Linked DNA regions of Homo sapiens: region 2 is linked to region 1. The links come from fine-mapping of genetic effects on gene expression. A gene starts in region 1. The other region holds a variant in brackets. All regions are shown on one strand. Distances are from middle to middle. Region 1 holds the start of CCDC3 (coiled-coil domain containing 3). Region 2 overlaps CCDC3 (coiled-coil domain containing 3).

What was found. PIP is the estimated chance that this variant, and not a neighbour inherited with it, causes the effect. A credible set is the group of variants that fine-mapping cannot tell apart.
Region 2: its variant is the best candidate, but not a certain one, in a credible set for the expression of CCDC3 in fibroblasts (GTEx, PIP 0.56).

What each region holds. Positions count from the first base shown.
Region 1 is chr10:12,996,710-13,007,441 of GRCh38, reverse strand. CCDC3 (coiled-coil domain containing 3) reads left to right here and starts at 5,729. Exons shown (of 3, transcript NM_031455.4): 1 at 5,729-6,245; 2 at 8,930-9,104. The coding sequence starts at 5,872. RefSeq lists enhancers at 5,599-6,099, 6,100-6,600.
Region 2 is chr10:12,961,716-12,972,447 of GRCh38, reverse strand. The region is part of intron 2 of CCDC3 (coiled-coil domain containing 3); the gene reads left to right. Among named protein-coding and RNA genes, the nearest start is that of CCDC3, 35 kb to the left of the region's middle. The variant T/A (reference allele first, on the strand shown) is at 6,673.

The DNA of each region.
Region 1 (10,732 bases):
GCAAAATTTATTGTTTTGATGCGTTTGAGAGTATAAATTTAATATACTTCTAGAGGTGACTCTAATAGCTTACTTGATTGGTTGACTACAATTTGAAGGAATTCCATGCTGGCTGAGATGCCAGAGCTTCCCTGAAACAATGTAAAGGAGGGAATCCAAAGGCTTAGGGAATTAGGAAGGTTGAACTGAATACTCGATGTGTGACCTGCACAGCCACCTGCCAACTACATTCCACAAGATGACCCAGAGGTATTTCCTTCACGACAGCAATGAGAAATATATTAATGAAGGAAGTACTGCATCCTTGAACATCTCTGTGGTTTCTCCTCTTTCTAGAAAAGTTATGACTCTAGTACAGGATGATGCCATCGAAAAGGGGTCAAACGGCAGCACTTAACTGCCAAAGGGAAGGTAAGTACCTCTACCGTAAAGGTCGGGAGGGGCATACTAGTAATCAGAATGTTTCGATTGGCAGAGATCTTTGACAGTGGATAGTTGATCATGATGTCTCTTGAAAGTAAATATGTGGGCAACCTGTGGGTGTAGTGCCTGATCTATGTAACAGCAAAAACTCTGGTAGCTGAAAACCTGACTTGAATTCCCACAGAGAGGAACTGAAGCCCCTTACCTAGCTTTTAGACATAAGTAAATTTATAGACACAGAGCCTTTTGACTGAAAGGTAAGCCAGGTGCCCTTGAGGAAGGACCCTGCACCATTGCCACATGCACACACCATAAATCCTCCTCTAAGACTTCTCCAAAGGGACCAAAGTTGACAACTGACAAACCCCCACATTTTCTCTCTGACCCATGGGTGATGGCTTTTATTGTTGGAAGGACTAAGCAGAAGCTCCTAGAACTTTCATTTCTACCAAGAGAATAAATCAGAAGCAATATTGCATCCCTGAGGGGATTGCAAAAATCCATGCTGCCATCAAAGACTTGAAAGAAGTGGCGATAGTTATCACATCTCCACTGAACTCATCAGTTGGGCTGTGCAAAAGTTGCATGGGTCTTGAAGAATGACTGAAGACTACTATGAACTTAATGAGGTGGTGGCTAAAATTCCAGCTGCTGTCCTAGATGTAGTATCTTTCCTGGAGCAAATTGATATGTCTCCCAGCATTTGCTTCGTAGCTACTGACCTGCCCTTTTCTCCTCACTGATTTGCAAGGATTGCCAGCAACGGTTTGCATTTACCTGTCAGGGCTAACAGTATACTTTCAGTTTTGCCTCAGGCTATGTCAATTCTCCTGCTCTCTATCACATTTATTCTGCAGAGATGTTGATTGTCTTGACGTTCCACAAAACATCACATTGGATTACCTCATGGATGACAGTATGATGAATGGATCTGATGTTCATGAAACACCATATACTTTAGAGGCCTTGGTAAGATATAAGGTGGGAGATAGGCCCCACAAAAATTCAGGGACCTGCCACCTCAGTATGGTTTCTGGGGGCTCAATTGTCACTCCTCCAAGGCAAAAGGAAAGTTGCTGGTCCTTGGATGATCTAAATGGGAAAAGAGGGAGAATGTATGTTCAGCCTTTTTGTATTTAGGAGGGAACATATGCCACATTTAAAAATGCTTTTTGAATTCATCTATAGAGTTATCTCTAAGGCTGCCAGTTTCAAGTGGTGTTGAGCAAGTTCTGAGAAGTCTCTGCAGCAAGTTCAGGCTGTGTACAAGTCACTGTATCACTTGAGCCTTATTATCTAGAAGGTCCAGTGATAAAGTATTTATGGCAAACAGGAATGTTGTATGGAGTCTTTAGAAAGCACCAGAAGGAAAATCACAGCACAAAACTCTGGGGTTTTAGTGCACATCTATGCCTTATTCTGGATATGGCTGTTTGCCTTTTGAAAAATAGCATCTCCCTTGCTACTAGGCTGTGGTAGAGATTGAATGCCTAACCATGGTATGCTGGGTGACTATGTAATCTGAACTTCTCATCATGAATTGGGTGTTGTATGACCCTCCTAGACATAAGGCCATGTGTGCGCAGCAGCAATCTACCATTAAATGGAAATGGTATCCAAGAGACTGGGATTGGGCAGGTCCAGATGGTGCAAGCAAGTTGCATGGGCAAGTGGCTTAGATTCCTTTGACTCTGAAGGTACGTTGCCTCTTCCACTCATATGGTTTATGGCCTCTTGAAGATACTCCAGTTGAATGAGGAAGAAATAACAAGACTGGTTTGAAGATTTTTCTGTATTACACACAGATATTACTCAGTTTCACTCATGGGTGATCCTGAAGGACACTGGTGAAGAAAAATTCTCCCAGTCGATAGAACTTTGAGCAGCAGATTTTGTTGTATGCTATGTCTAGACTAAGAGAGGGCTGGGAGTACACATGGACACTGATTCGTGGGCAGTTGCTAGTGGTTTGGTTGATGGTTAGGGACTTGAAAGAAATAGGATCAGAAGATTGATGACAAGGACATCTTGGGAAGAGGTGAATGAATGGACATCTTATAACGGTTACCAAGTGTGAAGATATTTGTGACCCATGTGAATGATGACCAAAGTGCATTCAGTGGAGGGGAAGTTCTTAGTGATTAGGTGGGCAATTGATGTACTCAGTGGGTGTCTGTCAGTCTCTTTTCTTGGCCACTCTACTGCTTACTCAATGAGCCCATAAACAGAGTGGCCATGGTGGCAGAAACAGAGGGTATTCATTGCCTCAACAATGTGGACTTCCTCTTACCACGGCTGGCCTAGCTAACACTACTACTACTGCTGAGAGCCTAATATGTCAACAATAGAGGCCAACATGGATCCCCTAATGTGGCCCCATTCACCTGGGGAACTAGTCAGCCACCTGGTGGCAGGTTGATTCCATCGGACCTTTTCCATCTTGGGGTGGGGGGTGGGGGTCAGAGATTTGTCCTCACTGAAATAGACACATTCTGGACACGGATATGCCTTCCCTGCCATAATGCTTCTGCCAGTAGCACCATCTATGGACTCATGGGGCACCTTATCCACCATCATGGAATTTCCCATAGTGATGTTTCTGATCAATGATTCCCACAGCATTGCTTCTTTCACAGCAATGAAGTGCAGCAGTGGTCTCAAGGCCATAGAATTAACTGGTTTTACCACATGTCCCATCACCTGGAAGCAACTGGACAAATTTTGAAGGATGTAACAGTTTAGTGAAGACTTAATTATAGTGTCAGTTGGGAGTCACCACACTGAAATGATGGAGTCCATCTTAAAGTGTACTTACTGTGTGTGCTTTGAAACAGAACATACATATACGGTACTATCCACCCCACAGCCAGGACATATAGGTCTCGGAATCAAGAGATGGAAGTGGCTCATGTCACTATTAAACCCAATAATTCACTCACAGAAGTTTTGTTTCCCCTCCTGGCTACCTTGAGCTCTGCTTGTTTGGAAGTCTTAGTCCCCAAAGAGGAACTGCTCACTACGGTACACTGCAATGGCTCAATCAGGAAGAGAAACCCAATCAGTGAGGCACTCTGCCAGATCTTACAGGGGAGAAAAGCATGACTGATGTGTCTGCTGAATCCATGAGGACGATTTCTTGCAGGTGCTCACTTCTGCAAAATACACTGTGGGAAGTATTGGAAGAGTTTTGATTCTGTCAAGTTTATACAACAAGAGAAAAAACAGCCATGTTTGCTGATTTTTATTTATTTGCTCACCTATGTGGAAAGAAAAGAGAGGGCCTTACAGTCTTTTGGGGTAGACAAATCTTTTCCAGGCCTTCAAGACACTTGAAGATGCAGTTAGTAAGAAAAACTTTCTTACTATCTTATCTGATGAGTTACAGTATAGGACTAAAATAGAGCAGGGATTCTGGGTCATACAAAATTAATGTTAGGTCAGTTGCACACTCCTTGAGCCATCATTGGTGACTCTGCTAAGGTTTTCTCTTAATTTGCTCTGTGTATATCCTGGTTAAAGGGCCGACCTGTGTCTTTAGAGCATTTCCTATATTTGGCCCTATTCTAGTGTTGTAGTTAAGTACATGGATCTGGAGTCTGATTGCTGGGAGCTGAATCCTAGCTTGGTCAACTTGTAGCTTTGTGATCTTTGGTGTCAATTAACTTCTCTGTGCCTGTTATCTGTAAAATGAGGATAATAGTTATATCTACTTCAGAATATTGTTTGGAGAATTTATTAAGATGACATATGTACAGTCCTTACAACAGTGATTGGCCCATGGTCAACAATGACTAAGGTTTAGCAATTCTTATTATAACTTGGCAGTGTGTGCTGTGAGTCTGCCTGCCAGGAATATAAACCATTTGGGATCCCTGCTCTCTTTCTCTAGCAAACCTGCAGAACACCTGCTAAATAGCTCATATAGACTGAATTATGTCTCCCCTCCCACCTCCAAATTCATATGTTGAAGTGCTAACTCCCTAATGTGACTGTATTTGGAAATAGGGTCTTCAGGCAGGTAATTAAATGAGGACATAAGGGTGGGGTGATAACCCCATAGGACTAGTGACCTTGTTAGAAGAGGAAGAGACCAGGGCTCACTCTTTCTCCATCACACACAGAGAGAAGGCCACGTGAGGACACAGTGAGAAGGTGGCCGTCTGTAAGCCAGGAAGAGAGGCCTCACCAGTAACCAACCCTAGCACTTTAATCTTGGACTTCCTGCCTCCAAAACTCTGAGAAAGTAAGGTCTGTTATTTAAGCCACCAGACTAGAGTATTTTATTATGGCAGCCCTGGGAGACTAATAGCATTATGAAATTGCATAATTTAAATATTCAGGGTGGATGTGGGGGCTCACGCCTGAAAGTTCAGCACTTTGGGAGGCTGAGGTGGGAGGATCGATTGAGCCCAGGAGTTTGAGACCAGCCTGAGCAACATAGCCTGTCTCTACTAAAAACAAAAAATTATCCGGGGTGGCAGTGTGCTTGTATTCCCAGCTACTTGGGAGACTGACCTGGGAGGATCACCTGAGCCCAGGGGAGGTCGAGGCTGCAGTGAGCCCTGATGGAGCCACTGTACTCCAGCCTGGGTGACAGATATAGACCTTGTCTCAAGAAAAAAACAAAAAACAAAACAAAAAACCTGTTGCCTTTAGAGATAAAGATGGAACTGTGGAGTCAGTATCCTCAAATTCACTCACTGATGTGAAAAGCTGTTTGGGATTTACTTCTGAATGTATTTCTCAGGTGTACAGTGTTTAGAAAATGGAATCAGGGATTATGGAAACCAAGAAAATCAGGGCCAAATGATTGCTTTTTGGAATCTTTTATCAAAGCTTTTCTAAGATCTTCATTAAATAACTAGCAAATCTGAGAGAGCACGAGATCTCAGCCCACACTGAATTTCCTAATCTCTGGGAATATAAAGTCAGATTTGGTTTCTATGTATTTTTACTCTGAAATGTAGAGAAAATGTAAAAACTTAGGCAGTAATCGTGCAAATTAAGAGTCATTCTTTAATGAATGCCTTGCGTTTGCAAACAGGCTTTACGCCTGGCAAGCTCGGACCACGTCCATCGTGGGGCGCCAGGAGATTGCTGGGCCACTGTCCCCAATTCAGGGCTGGGTCCCGGCGTCCCCGCGTTCTCCGAGTCCCTGGTCCCCGCCCCAGCCGGCGCCGGGACCCGCCCGACTCCCCGCCCCTCCCCCGCCCACGCCCCAGCCGCAGGGGGCAGGGCGGGAGGCGGGCGCCCGGCGCGTCCAGTCCCCGGGACCCTTTTAAAGCGTGGCGCGCCAGGGCCGGGCATGCCGAGCCCCGTGGCGGAGACAGCGGTGCGCTCAGCTCCCGGGAGCGGCCCGAGCAGCCGAGCGCCCAGGGCTGCCCTTCCCGGGCCGGCGGGCTCCCCGGGCTCCCCGCCGCCGCCCCGTGCGCCCCGGGAGGGCCCGGCATGCTGCGCCAGCTGCTGCTCGCCGCGCTCTGCCTGGCGGGTCCCCCAGCGCCCGCGCGCGCCTGCCAGCTGCCCTCCGAGTGGAGGCCCCTGAGCGAGGGCTGCCGCGCCGAGCTGGCCGAGACCATCGTGTACGCCAGGGTGCTGGCGCTGCACCCCGAGGCGCCCGGCCTCTACAACCACCTGCCCTGGCAGTACCACGCCGGCCAGGGGGGCCTCTTCTACTCGGCCGAGGTCGAGATGCTGTGCGACCAGGCGTGGGGCAGCATGCTGGAGGTGCCCGCCGGCTCCAGGCTCAACCTCACCGGCCTGGGCTACTTCTCGTGCCACTCCCACACCGTGGTCCAGGACTACTCCTATTTCTTCTTCCTCAGGTGAGCCCGGCGGCGCCGCCGCCACCTCTCTCTCTCTCTGCGCCACCTCCCGAGGTCGCCGTTACCTAGAGCCAGGCCGGTAACTCCCCGGGCAGCCTGTCGGTGTCAAGTGAGAATGCCCCTGGGGCGCCTACCCCTTGCCTTCTTGGATCTTTCTTGCTCCGTCTGACGTCTCTACAGACATCCTGACTACCCCTGGTTAAGGCGGTTTAAAAGACAGGGAAGGTTTCTGTGCCTTGTACACAGAAGAGCATTGCAGACAGAAGCTCAAAGCGCCCTCCAACAGTCCCTTTGACTTGGGTTTTTAAACTGGCCTCAGTGGGAGTAGATTGGGACGGTGAGAAAAACAATCTTTGAAATCAGTCTGTGGCTGGCATTTTGGCTCTGCCCTTCCTAACCGTGATTCTGAGCGCATTTCTTGACACCTTCTCAAGAACTTCCATAGCCTCACCTGTGTAAAGTGAGAGACAGGGCTGGTTGAGTGAGGAACGTAACTCATGCAAAGCACCTGGTGCAGGTTAGAAGTTGACCAGCTGTCCACTCTCTCCTCTTCCTCATTTGCTCAAATGCCAAGATGTGAATGGTGTGGAATGTAGCCCGGGATTGCTTCACTGTCTCATATCAGCTGCCAGGTTCTTTGAAATAGCAAAGGTTTACTAGGGCTTGGGGTTCTGCTGCTGGTAAAATCCTGGGTAGCAATGCTTTGAGGAGTGGAGAGGTGAACCAGGCCAGGAGGTCCTCTTTGATTATAGACCACTGGAATCTTCTGAAGTTCCATGAACTTCAGAACTTGGCCTGTGGTCAAGATGGAATGCATCTGCCTAAGAATTCAGTCAATTCTCATTGACTACTGAATTCTTCTGAAATTTGAATAGAGAGTGCCAGGTAGAACTCTAAATTCTTTGGTTAGCTTCAGTTGGAATTTGGAGAGTGATATAAAACAACTGAGAAAAACATCAAAATGGAATCTAACCTATCTATCAAGATAGTAAATTAATCCACTGTTGGGGTGATCGGTTGTAGTTCGTTTTCCCAGTCTGGGAAGTAGCACTGAGGATATTTGGAATGAGGCTGACGTGGGTCTGCAGATTCACTTTTAGCTCGCATTTCTCTGAGAAAGAAAACAGTTCTACAAAGTGGTGTTTGTAAGTGCATGGCAACACATGTTTTCCATATTGAAGCCAGAATATCTAAGTTTAAAAAACACGTCTTGCTTTGTGTTGGCTTGAGTGGTTCAGCTAGATTAAGTTTTTATATATATGTATGTATTTCCAGAGAAGTGTAGTTTCTAAATAAAGCCAGTGAGACTGAGAGAGTGCCCTTCTCGATACAGAGAAACTTAGGGTTTCATGTTTTTAATTAGGAAAGATACTGAGAAACCATCTATAAAACTATTCAAAACCAGAACTTTGTTCTCCAAAGGAAAAAGAGCCCAAGTGTTTGAGCAGGCTTTTTAAAGAAATTTTTATCATGAAATACAGTTTGTCCAATAGTTCCGTGGTGCTCAGCCAATTCTCATCTTTTTTGCTCTACCATGTTTACAAAAGTTAGGGCAGAAATACAAAGACAGTAGTCTGACATTTTCATTTCACAGGGCTGTCTTGCCTTGGAGTGTGTTAACAACTACACACAAATCATTCCTTCTCTGTTATTCTGGGACCCACTGAGATGAAACTGGACCTGTGGTCACTGTCAGGGGTGAGGGTGGCAACGGAGACTTGCTGGTGAGCCCTACGTGTTTTCTGTAGACTGGAGTGTAACTTTCATCTCTTTCTTTTTGTGACATTTTAAAGAATCATTCTAATTGATTAATGCTAGGCCTTTAAATGTGTTCACTAACATGCATACTGCATTTACTTTGTACCAAGTGCTTCATTTACTTAGGTTTTTGATGCAATGCTTATGACATCACCAGAAAAGTAGGTACTATTTTTTACTTATATATGTTCTTTTTTTGAGATGGCGTCTCACTCTTGTCACCCAGGCTGGAGTGCAATGGTGCAATCTCTGCTCACTGCATCCTCCGCCTCCTAGGTTCAAGTGATTCTCCTGCCTCAGCCTTCTGAGTAACTGGGATTACAGGTGTGTGCCACCGTGCCCAGCTAATTTTTGTATTTTTAGTAGAGACAGGGTTTCACTGTGTTGGCCAGGCTGGTCTCGAACTCCTGACCTTAGGTGATCCACCTGCCTTGGCCTCCCAAAGTGCTGGGGTTACAGGTGTGAGCCACCGCACCTAGCCAGTACTATATTCTTTTTGCAGATTAGAATACTGAAGCTTAGAGGAGTTAAGACATTTGTTTCATGTCATACAGAAGATAAATAGCAAAGACAGAACTTAAACATAGGTGATGACAGCTGGCCTTTTTTTCACCAGGAAATAAGGAACACTCTTTGAGAAGGAAGACCCCTTGGGGGACTTGGAAGACAACACAAATAGACAAACAGGCACCATACACATAGTTTTCTCCATACTTTGCTCAAACTCATCTTTTTGAAAACCTTAAGGATAGACTGATGTAGCGTGAGACAAAGAAATAATTAGAAGTAGTAACTCCTCTAATGAGAGCCATGCCAGACATTGATGTGAAATTGGCAAGCCCGTTGCAGTTGTCTGTGACTCTGGATTGGAGCTGGTACACCCTTGACTGTCTAGCCTACATGTCTGCCTTTTTTTCCTCCATTAGGATGGATGAAAATTATAACCTCTTGCCTCACGGAGTCAATTTCCAAGATGCCATCTTCCCAGACACTCAAGAGAACAGAAGGATGTTTTCTAGCCTTTTCCAGTTTTCAAACTGTTCGCAAGGGCAGCAGCTGGCGACTTTCTCCAGTGACTGGGAAATCCAGGAAGACAGTAGGGTAAGAATTGGCTAAATCCTGTGCCACAGCAAAACAATAGTATAGCTACACCTTGTGTGAATTTTGTGACCAAAGGAATCAAGAATACTCTTCCAAAAGCCCAGATCAGAGAGTATTAGCGTATGCCCTCTCTCTCTCCTGCTATCCCTCCTTACCTCCCAGCTGTTAAAAAAGACCATTCATAAACTTTGGATCCCTGAAGCTTTACTGTTGGATAAGGAGTTCTTCCCAAAGTATGAGAACAAGATGAGATGAAGATTGGCATGCTGAGCCTCAGTTTCCTCTTCTACAGAACAGGGACAATAGTAGCATCTATATCAGGCTTGTCCAACCTGCAGCCCAGGACAGTTTGAATGTGGCCCAACACAAATTTGTAAACTTTCTTAGAACATTACGAGATTTTTCTGCAATTTTTTTTTGCTTATCAGCTATCGTTAGTGTTAGTGTATTTTATGTGTGGCCCAAGACAATTCTTCTTCCAATGGGGCCCAAAAGATTGGACACCCCTGATCTATGTCAGAGGGCTAATGCAATATGATTTAAATATGTAAAAACTATAATTATGTAAATCCGTTAGCGTAATGCTTAAAAGAGTAAGTGCTCAATACATGTGAGCCGTTACGACTGTTCCTGACTGTGTATGATTGTCATGGACAGCACAGGGCCCTAAGAAATTGTCTTAGAGGAAAGGAAAAGTGCTGAGGGAAATGAAATGAAATTGCTATCATAGCTACCACTTCTGTGATTCTTAACTATAGTTGGTAAGACATAGAGGTGCAGGATGGCCAAGGTGGTTGCAAAATGTAAGGGTCGGGATCGTAAGGGTTGGGAATGAAAATATAAAAGAGTCTTCCGATCTGGGCCAAATGCCAGAGTTGGAGGAACATTTTGATGATCATCACTCTTCCAAAGCAATGGGCTTTGCCACAACCAAGTTGGGATGATAGTGGGGGCCAGGCCAGTCTAGGCCTCTGGGGCTGTGACCCATCTCTTCCGGTCCCCGATTGAAGACATTTTTAGGGCAATGTGACACACTGCTGGAGAGAGAGTTCTGATGTGGGTATCACATGGAATAAGGACTTTTTTTTTTTTTTTCCATTAACGAACCCATTTGCACATGTTAAGAGACTCCCTTCTTTCCACCCATCAAGAAGGGTTTGAGGGAAGTGTCTTTCTCTTGTCTGGTGGGATGGCCTAGGGTAGCTGCCTTGTTCTTCCGAATCCCCTTATTGTCTTTTTTATTTTGTTTTCCTTCCAACTTTTATTTTAGGTTCAGGGGGTACGTGTGTAGGTTTATGACGTGGGTAAATTGCGTGCCACTGGGGTTTGGTATACCAATCGTTTCGCACCCAGGTAGTGAGCACAGTACCTGAGAGGTAGTTTTTCCATCCTCACCCTCCTCCCACCCTCACGTAGGCCCCCGTGTCTATTGTTGCCATCTTTGTGTCCATGTGTACTCAATGTTTAGCTCCCATTATAAGTGAGAACATGCAGTGTTTGGGTTTCTGTTCCTGCGTTCATTTGCTTAGGATAATGGCCTCCAGCTGCATCCATGTCTGCAAAGGACAGGATTCAAACCCGCTTCAAAGGGAGATTCAAAGGGAGCTTCTCCCAGGGCTCCCTGGACC
Region 2 (10,732 bases), 35 kb after region 1:
AGGAGGGTGTCAGAGCTCCAGCACAGAATGGGATGTGGTTGAGGGCAGGATTCAGATCCAGCAGGAAACCCAGAGTGCCAGGCTGGAAACTGAGGCAGAAGCCCAAGGGTGTGCCTGGGGCTATGGCAGGGATGAGTCTCCAGGTGGCTTTGGAAGTTGGGGGTGAGGGGAAGAGGAAGCTGGAGGCTGCTTGGTTGTAAATGTGGTGAAAACATGAAGAAACTCACAGGAACCAGTGAGGGTGGAGAGTGGGGTTGAGTTTAAGGGCATGTGTGGGTGCGTGAGCTTGGTTGGATTGTGTATGGCATGAGGTGGTGGTTTGATAGTGAGTTACTGTCCTGCACGCAGCAGTGTGCTAGGTGGAGAGAAGTCCAGGCTCCCAGCACAGGAGGTGATAGTTGAAGCCATAAGGCAGCATTAGGAGAGGCAGGAGAGAGCAGAGGGTAAAGACAAAAACTTCGGGCTGGGCATGGTGGCTCACACCTGTAATCGCAGCACTTTGGGAGGCTGAGGTGGTCAGATCACGAGGTCAGGAGTTTGAGACCAGCCTGGCCAACGTAGTGAAACCCTGTCTCTACTAAAAATACAAAAAAATTAGCCGGGCATGGTGGCAGGCACCTGTAATTCCAGCGACTTGGGAGGCTGAGGCAAGGAGAATCGCTTGAACCTGGGAGGCGGAGGTTGCAGTGAGCTGAGATTGCGCCACTGCACTCCAGCCTGGGCAACAGTACAAGACTCTGTCTCGAAAACAAACAAATAAAAACTTCGGGGCTTGGGCACTGGTGGGACCAGAAGAGGGAACACACCTCAGTCCAGCAGACAGCAAAGGAGCTGTTACAACACGGGCGGGAGAGCAGGGGTTGTGGCATGGCGGGACCCAGGCACAGAGGCTGCTGGGGACAATAGGGTAGCAGTGCCAGGAGCTGACATTCAGGATGCCAGGAGGACACTGGATCTGGCAAGGAGGCCATTTAGGACCTAGAGTGTGGGTTCCTTCTTTTCTGCATCTCCATCTGCGGTGGGCTACAGTGAGAAGCTGTGCTCTGAGTGAGAGATCTAAGGTTCTCAAAGACCAATTTGTGGCCAATCTGCAGGACCTGTTAAGGCAAGCAAATGTCCTCATTCCTTTCCGAAAGGATAGAAGCCACATGCATGTTCTGCCCAGGCATTGTTTCAGCTGCGCACGATGCCCCAGGCATTGGTTCAGCTGCCCACGATGGCCCCTTTCCTGCTCACGCCAGCTACTTAGGGTTACACTCCATGGTGTAAATATAGCTCATGAGTCCCTGGGGACAGGGAGGGAGGCAGCACTCTGTGGACAGTGGACAGCTTGGGATCTGATTCACATTAACGGTATAAGGCTTTTCTTCCCTTCAAAATTCTGTAACTCTGTAGACCTTTATATTTAAGCCTTGACATTACATCAGTAAGTAGATAGATTCCAGATTTAAAAAATGAACGTTGAGAAGTAGAAGGGTTTAATGATAGGCCAAACTTTGCGAAGTGCTTTATAGTTGCTTAGTTATTGGTTTGCAGACTGACAATTTTTTTTTTTTTTTTGAGACAGTCTTGCTCTGTCGCCCAGGCTAGAATGCAGTGATGCGATCTCAGCTCACTGCAACCTCCACCTCCCAGGTTCAAGTGATTCTCCTGCCTCACTCAACCTCCTGAGTAGCTGGGATTTCAGGTGTCTGCCACCATGCCCAGCTACGTTTTGTATTTTTGGTAAAGACAGGGTTTCACCATGCTGGCCAGGTTAGTCTCGAACTCTTGGCCTCAGGTGATCCCCAGTTGCCCTGCCTCGGCCTCCCAAAGTGCTGGGATTACAGGCGTGAGCCACCGTACCCGGCCCAGACTGACTTTTAATTTATTTAATTAAGTAAAAGTTGTATATGTTTATTGTGTACAGTATGATTTTAAATATATGTATACGTTGTAGAATGGCTACATCAAGCTAATTAACATGTATACTACCTCACAAACTTATTTTTTTGGGGTGAGAACCTTAAGATCTACTCTTTTAGCAATTTTCCAATACATACTACAGATGTACCTCAACTTACGATGGGGTTGTACAGCAATAAACCCACCGTAAGTTGAAAATGCATTTAATACCCCAGTGAACCCACGGTAAAGTTGAACTATTGTATATTGAACCACCATAATAGTGTTATTGACTGTAGTTGCCGCGATATGCAGTAGATTTTGTAAACTCATTCCTCCGGTGTAACTGAAATTTTGCGTCTGTGACCAACATCTCCCCTCACCCCTCATCCTTCAGCCTTTGCCAGGAAAAGCTGTGACTCACCCCTTCCTGTAACTTTTAAATTACCATCTTGGAGACCACCATTGATGAAAAAACCCTAAAAACCCATACATTAGAAAAAACACTACCAAAATACATCAAGAAGCTAATTTAACTTGAGATAAGGCATTGCAGGCTATCCTGTTTTAAATTAAAATGGCTTCATTAAATAGGCATACACTGAGTCCCTTTGAAGTATTTTATTTTTCTGTCTTATCCTCTGTTTCTATGAGTTTGACTTTTTTATACTCCACATATAACTGAGGTCACATGGTATTTTGCTTTTCTGTGACTGGTTTAGTTCACTTAACATAATTTCCTCCAGGTTCATCCATGTTGTCACAAATGACAGGATTTCCTCTTTTTTTTTTAAGAATGAATATCTTAAAAATATTTTTTAAAAATATTAGAATATTAAATATTAAAATTATTAAAATATTTTTTAAAATATTAAAAAATTTCTAAAATTTTTTTAAGAATGAATAATATCCTACCATATATATTATATAAAAAAACTTTTTTTATCCATTCATCTGTCAATAAACACTTAGGTTGGCTTCTTTTTCATACTGTTATCATATCCTTTGGATATGTACCCAGTAGTCGGTTTACTACTGGGTACGTAAGCTTCTGAATCTTATGTACTAAATTACCTTGGGTAATTCTATTTTTAATTTGTGGGTGTGTGTTGTTATATATTTACCATAATTGAACATAATTTCCAATCTATTTTTAATTTTTTGAGGAAACTCCATACTGTTTTCTATAGTGGTGTACTAATTTACATTCCCACCAACTGTTACAAAGGTTCTCTTTTCTCCACATCCTCATCATCATTTATTGCTTGTCTTTTTTATTATAGTCATTCTAACAGGTGTGAGATGACAGTTCATTATGGTTTTAATCTCCTTTTCCCTGATGATTCGTGATGTTGAGCATTTTCTTATTTACCTTTGGGCCATTTGTATGTCGTCTTTAGAGAAATGTCTATTTGGGTCCTTTGCCCATTTTTTAATTGACTTGTTTACATGCTATTGAGTAGTTTCAGTTCCCTGTATGTTTTGAATATTAACTTCTTATCAGGTGTGTAGTTTGTCTTTTATAGGAGATTTTAATCTGTTTACACTCAAGATAATTATTGATAGGTAAGGATGTACTATTGCCATTTTGTTAATTGTTTTTTGCTTGTTCCTTTGTTCCTTTCTTCCTCTCTTGCTGTCTTCTTTATGATTAGATGATTTTCTCTCATAGTTTGCTTTGATTCCTTACTTTCTATCTTTGGTGTATCTACTATAGATTTTTGCTTTGTGATTACCTTGAGGCTTACATAAAAGATACTGTAATGGGCTATTTATTTTAAGCTGTAAATAACTTAACCTTGATTGCATGATAATACTCCATACTTTTAATCCACCTCCCCATTTTGTGTTTTTGATGTCACAGTTTACATCTTGTATATCCCTTAAAAAATTATAGCTATTATTTTAAATAGTTTCATCTTTTAACCTTCATACTAAAGATAAATGTTACTTACATACCACCATTATAATATTAGACTGTTCTGAATTTGACTACTTACTTTTACAAATGAGTTTTATACTTTGATGTATTTTCCTGTTACCCATTAGCATCTTCTTTCAGCTTGAAGAACTCTCTTTAACCTTTCTTGTAAGACAGGTCTGTTGGTGATGAACTTACTAAGCTTTTGTTTGTTGGGAAAAGTCTTTCTCTCCATTTCTGAAGTACAGCCTTGCTAGGTACAGTGTTCTTGGTTGACAAGTTTTTTCCTGCAATACTTTGAATATATCATCCCACTTTTTCACGGCTTAGGTTTCTACTGAGAAATCTGCCACTAGCCTTATTGGAACTTCTTTATATATTGTTTTCCTGTTTTCTCTTGTTCCTTTTAGGATACTCTGTGTGTGTGTGTGTGTGTGTGTATGTGTGTGTGTTTGTATTTTCTTTTTTTTTTCTGAGGTGAAGTCTCGCTCTTTCACCCAGGCTGGAGTACAGTGGTGTGATCTTGGCTGCCTGCAAACTCTGCCTTCCAGCTTCAAATGATTCTCCTGCCTCAGCCTCCAGAGTAGCTGGGATTACAGGCACACGCCACCACACCTGGCTAATTTTTGTATTTTTAGTAGGGACTGGGTTTCACCATGTTGGTCAGGCTGGTCTCGAACTCCTGACCTTGTGATCTGCCCGCCTCGGCCTCCCAAAGCGCTGGGATTATAGGCATGAGCCACCATGCCCGACCTGTCTTTATACTTGACAGTGTGATGATAATATGTCTTGGGATAGTCTTGTTTGGATTGAATCTGATTAGAGAACTTTGACTTTCTTTTACCTGGATATTTGTGTCTTTCCCTAGAATTGGCATGTTTTCTGCTATTGTTTAAGCTTGCCTACCCCTTTGCCCCTATGTTTTTTTCCCTTAATTCCTGTAACTCAAGTATTTTTGTTCTTTTGATGTTGTCCCATAAATCCTGAAGCTTTCTTCATCCCTTTTCACTTTTTTCCTTTCTTTGCTGGCTGCATATTTTCAAATAACCTGTCTTTGAGTTCACAGACTTTTTTTCTCCTTGATCAATTTTGCTGTTGATATTTTCTATTGAACTTTTTATTAATTGTATTTTTCAGCTCCAGAATTTGATTTTTTAAAAATAATTGTAATATCTATTAAATTTCTAATGTTGATTATTTATTATTTTCCTGACTCATTGGGATATTTCTCTGATTTTTTGAGGTTCATTGAACATAAAATAATTATTTTGAATTCTTAGGCAGTTCACATATCTTAATTTCTTTGTGGTTAGTTACTGGGAGATTATAACACCACCAAAAGAATATGATATATTATTTGTTTCCTCATTACCTTATGCTGATGTCTGTTCATTTGGTGGAGAAGTCACCTCTTGGAGCTGTTCTGGGTTCATTTCACTATAGGAAGACCTATGCTGTTTATGGAATGGCACAAAAGTCAATACATTGCATATGGAACCAGCCTTTAAAAAGTCAAAACTGATTTATGGGAGAAGGTGGAGAGGGGCATGGTTTCACAGCTGCCTCACCCTGGGTAAATCGCTCAGCTTGTTCAACTCCTTAGAAAGCTGGAGGAAGCCCAGAAGATGAAGGGACTCCAGCAAAAGAGATCTGGAAGATGATACAGGCTGTTACCCTGGACAGTTCGTTTAAAATAGCTGGGTTTCCATTTCCACACCCTGCCTTCCTCCCAGGTTTGTTGAGGAGACCCAAAGAGATAAGATACGGGAAACTGTTTTGAACATTGTCAAGTGCTATACAAAGTAAGGTATGGTTAAACCTCTTCATTTTAGAACACGTTGGAATTTGAAGGCGCCCAATAAATACTGGTTTCCTCACCCACTTTCTGACTTAACTGAGTCAAAGATTTCCTTTCTTAACTGATGAAGATGATACAGTGTGGCTTGTATCTGTAGGCAAGAGGGATGATTCCCAACCTCAGGGTTAGATGGACTTAGGAGGCACAGGTCGCTTTGGAAAACCGTAGCCCATGTCTGGGGCGTGTCTGATGCTCTAAAATTTTCTGCTTCGATAAGAAGCAGACTGGACTGGGAACTCCCTGTGGCCAGCTGGCTCCCAAGAGGAAAAGGGGAGAGCTAGGCATGCTTTGTTCCTGTTTGCAAGTACAGGAATCAGAGTCCCTGCCTGTTCCCGGAGGGGTGTGAGGGTCTGGGGAGAAGCCAGGAGCATGCTTGTAATGCAAGACTCATTACACAAAAACTAGCAGGCTGGGGAAGGGAGATTCCTCCTATAGATAGTAGCGTAAATAGGCTGTGCTGAATTTAAAGCCCACAGCCCCTCAGTTTCTAGTTTCTCAACCTTGCTCATATAGTAATATGAGTAAGGCTGGTAACTGAGTACCATATAGTAATATGAGTAAGGCTGGTAACTGAGTACCATATAGTAATATGAGTAAGGCTGGTAACTGAGTAAGGTTGAGAAACGAGAAACTGAGTTTGTGGGCTTTGACTTCAGCACAGCCTATTTACGCTACTGCCAGGGGCTTATTGCCCACAGACGGTGATAGAGTGAGGCCCAGCCTTGGGAACATCTCGTGAAAGGCTTGCAAAGGGGACCTAAGAAAATGCCTGGGATGGTGGATTCACTCTGTGCTGGAGAAACTTAATGATTTGTGGTCATCAAAAATGAACTCCTTATTCACTTTCACAAGACTCAATGATTTATCATCCAATGTGAACTGTGTTCTGAATCCTATTCTCTACATACTTTGGTGCAGACACCTTCTCCATGTGCCATTTACAACGTGTGTATGTCACGAAGCCTTCTCTTTAGGGCTGAGCCAACTTGGCATTCTGTCTTGCATGATG[T/A]CTCCTTATAGACAGAAAATTCCAAACTGCCGGCATCCAAAAGTTAATGACTCATGATTACATGAGAAAAGAAGCATTAACAACGAATGACAAATTGTTTATACTTTGAATGTCATGGCTAATCACTTGGTTTTTAAAGATGTACTGTTACAGCAAAAAATTAGTGTTTAAGAAAAGATATATTTGCCTTTCTATGTGTCTTGTGACACTGTGAGTGACATCTCTCTTACGTACACTCAAAAATCTAACAATCATCGGGAGTAGGAATCGTAAATTTATATTGAACTCTAGTTGGTGAACTGAACCATAATTTTAGTTGTGGTGTGTATATGTGACTATGACAGTATAAGTACATATAATTTATAAAATATGTTTGGAAGTCCTTTGGGAGGGAGGAGGGAGAAGATTTTCCCTCTAATTTCCAAGGTTTAGTAACTGGGTCTATGAAATAAACTGACAACAGGCAGATTAACAGGATAAAAGATACACAAGTTTATTAAGTGCACAGGGACATCATAGGAAAAAAAGTCATACCCCTTAAAACAGTGAGATTTAGAAGGTTATATACCCTCTTTTTGGGGAAAGCAGGGAGGGGGGATGTAGGCAATTTAGGAGAGAGAAAATGATTTTGGGGAAAGATGAATAGACCCTCAGAATAAGTGATAGCTTGTGACAAACCTTGGGTGTGATGTCACCTCCATTCTCCTCTCCTGTGATAAGAGTTAATTTTCCCTGGTTGATGAAACTCCCAGGGGTGGGGGTACTGACGACAACTGAGCTCCTTTTGGAGGTTTTGTCTTTAGGCAGATAAAGGGAATTCAGAGAAAGCCACTGTCTGCATGTACTGTTTTTCAAGTTCCTCCAGCTCAAAGTAGTCTTTATGCCAAAGCAGCATATTTTGGGGTGGCCTGTCCTAAACTCCTACATACTACTTTAAATTATGTATAAACTTTACTCCCTAATGCCTGCATGTTCTTAATACATTTACCAGTGGTGTGACTGTAGGTGTCACTTGCCCTCTTTGTCTCTTTGTTCATCTGCAAAGTGGAGTCAATTACATTGTTAAGGATGCCTTTGGCTACAAGTAAGAGAAAACTGGACTCAATGAATTTCAAACAGTGAGGAAATGTATTATCACATGAGGCAAGAAAGCAAAGGTAGTGGTAGCTCCAGGCACGGGTTAATCAGGGATCTGGGTCCCCTCTTGGTGATTCTTTTGGCTCGGCATTCTCTCTTCGTGGTACTGTTGTTCTCAGGCTAGATTCCTTCATGGATGCAAAAAGGCTGCAGCACTTCCAGGCATAAACTACAGACCCAACAAGATCTGAAAGCGGGAGAGATTATTTTGGTGTGGCTTTTATAAAGAACAGAAAATGTCATTCTCTCTCTTTTTTTTTTTCTTTAAGATGGAGTTTTGCTCTTGTTGCCCAGGCTGGAGTGCAATGGTGTAATCTCAGCTCACTGCAACCTCTGCCTCCCGGGTTCAAGCGATTCTCCTGCCTCAGCCTCCTGAGTAGCTGGGATTACAGGCATGCACCACCATGCCCAGCTAATTTTGCATTTTTAGTAGAACCGGGGTTTCTCCATGTTGGTTAGGCTGGTCTCGAACTCCCGACCTCAAGTGATCCGCTTGCTTCACCCTCCCAAAGTGTTGGAATCACAGGCATGAGCCACCGCTCCCGGCTGGAAAATGTGATTCTCATGAGCAACTTCTCCCTCTCCACAACCAGCAAGCTTTTTCTCACATGTCATTGGCCAGAGTTGTATCACTGACTTGTACCTTGTAGGCCTGCTTAATTAGCTTAGACCAATAACGACTCGCCTCCTGGGACATCCCGCCCTGAAGTAATGGCCATGTGAAAGACAGTGCAACTTTAAGAAAACTGGAGTTCAGGCCAGGCTTGGTGGCTCACGCCAGTAATCCCAGCACTTTGGGAGGCTGAGCTGGGTGGATCACTTTCAGGTCAGGAGTTTGAGACCAGCCAGAACAACATGGTGAAACCCCATCTCTACTAAAAATACAAAAAATTCGCTGGGCATGGGTGGTGCACGCCTGTATTCCCAGTTACATGGGAGGCTGAGGCGGAGGATCACTTGAATCCGGGAGAAGGAGGTTGCAGTGAGCCAAGATCATGCCACTGCACTCCAGCCTGGGTTAGAGTGAGATCCTGTCTGAAAAAAAAAAAAAAAAAAAAACCCGGAAAACAAAACTGGAGTTCAATAGGAAGGAAGGCAGGAATTAGGCAACATACATAATAACCCCTATAGGATCATTATGAGGAACAGATAGAACATATGATTTAATGTGTTAGTATATATGAAACTCTTTAGAAAGTGTTGAAGACGTGGGAAGTGCTATGTGTGTATTTGCTGCTGTTATTGGGATTAGCATGTGGATTTGGTAAGTCTCAATGCCATACCAGTGAAAAGGATCATTGTGAATGGTGCTGTTTAGAGATAGAGGAAGAGAGATGGATTGTAAAGGTCAACAAGGTTAAGAGATCTCAGAAGCAAAGAGGAGATGGAGTGAGCAGTTGGCCTATGTTTGGTCATAGTCTGTATCTTGAGAGGAGGTAAAGCAGCCTTCTAAATAAAGAAAAAATATGATCGCTTAATGTGTTAATGAAACCCAGTCTCAATTGCCTCTTCTTTCCCACAGCTATTTTCTTTCACTAGTTGAAAGTGGTGTTTAACTGCAGACGTATTTTTAAAACAGCCAAGGTCTCTTAACCAAATAAAAAGCATAGATCCCATTACTTTTGATGAGGGAAGAATGGAGGTGGAAAATAGTGTATATAAGTATGTAAGTTTAAATCTTTTTATGAAAACACACACATAAAGCTTGGAAGAAACCATATAAAAGCTGTCAACCCTAGCCAAAAAGAAGGAAAAGAAGAAAATTGGCTTCCTAAGCTTTTAGCTATAAATAAAAATAACCTTCCTGATCTATGTTTGATGCATTACTTGGGAAAAACTTTACTCTTGTGTATTCTGAATGATTTTTGAGTGTTTTTCACACTTAAAAATCCCTGTAATGTTTGATGTCATTTTATACCACTTAGGACTTAGCTTTTCCTTCTGACCCCTTGATGTGTCATTTTAAATGTAACAGTGACAGTTGTAAGCCGTTCGAAATGTAACAGCCCATTTTATTTGTTTAAATTTTTGTTTTTTGAGACAGAGTCTTGCTCTGTCACCAGGCTGGAGTGCAGTGGTGCGATCTTGGCTTACTGCAGCCTCCAGCTCCCAGGTTCAAGCAATTCTCCTGCCTCAGCCTCCTGAGTAGCTGGGACTACAGGCACCTACCACCACACCTGGCTAATTTTTGTATATTTAGTAGAGACAGGGTTTCACCATGGTGGCCAGGATGGTCTTGATCTCTTGACCTCGTGATCCGCCTGCCTCGGCCTCCCAAAGTGCTAGGATTACAGGCGTGAGCCACTGTGCCCGGCCAAAAGCCCATTTTATTATGGCACTTCATTAATGCATCAAGTTTTATTCTTGCAACCTTGAGATTTGGGGGCTTACTGATCGTTACGTGTTTTTCTTGAATGCAAAGCCAATTACTTTCAGGGAGGGTGTCTATGTGACAGGAGAATTTGTCATATCAAATCCTTCCACTTCAGAGAAGCCGAAGAAGGCCTGGAGAAATTTGGGAGCTCTTACACAGCATGAAGATAGCAGTTTCTGTTTTCATTCTTCTTGGCCTTTTATCAAACTTACTTTCAATCTTTTCAGAGAGCAACGTTCCATTATTTACAATCAATCTCATAAAATGTGATGTTTGCCCATCTGTCTGGCTTGGCACTTAGCATATACGGGTCCAAGTAATCCTTTATTCCTTATCAGAGGTTTACATTTCCTCCTATGCATACCCTTCAAAAATGGGTCAGTGGGGGTATTTCTCCATATTTATGGAATATTTTAAGTTCAGCCTGCAGCTAGCTACTTGGAAGCTTCATGAGGGGTTGAGCAGCATGAACCAAGGAAAGGGCTGAAATGGAAATTGTGCTGATTTCATCTAATTACTTAGGGGTGGGAGACCCTCTGTTTCCACCAT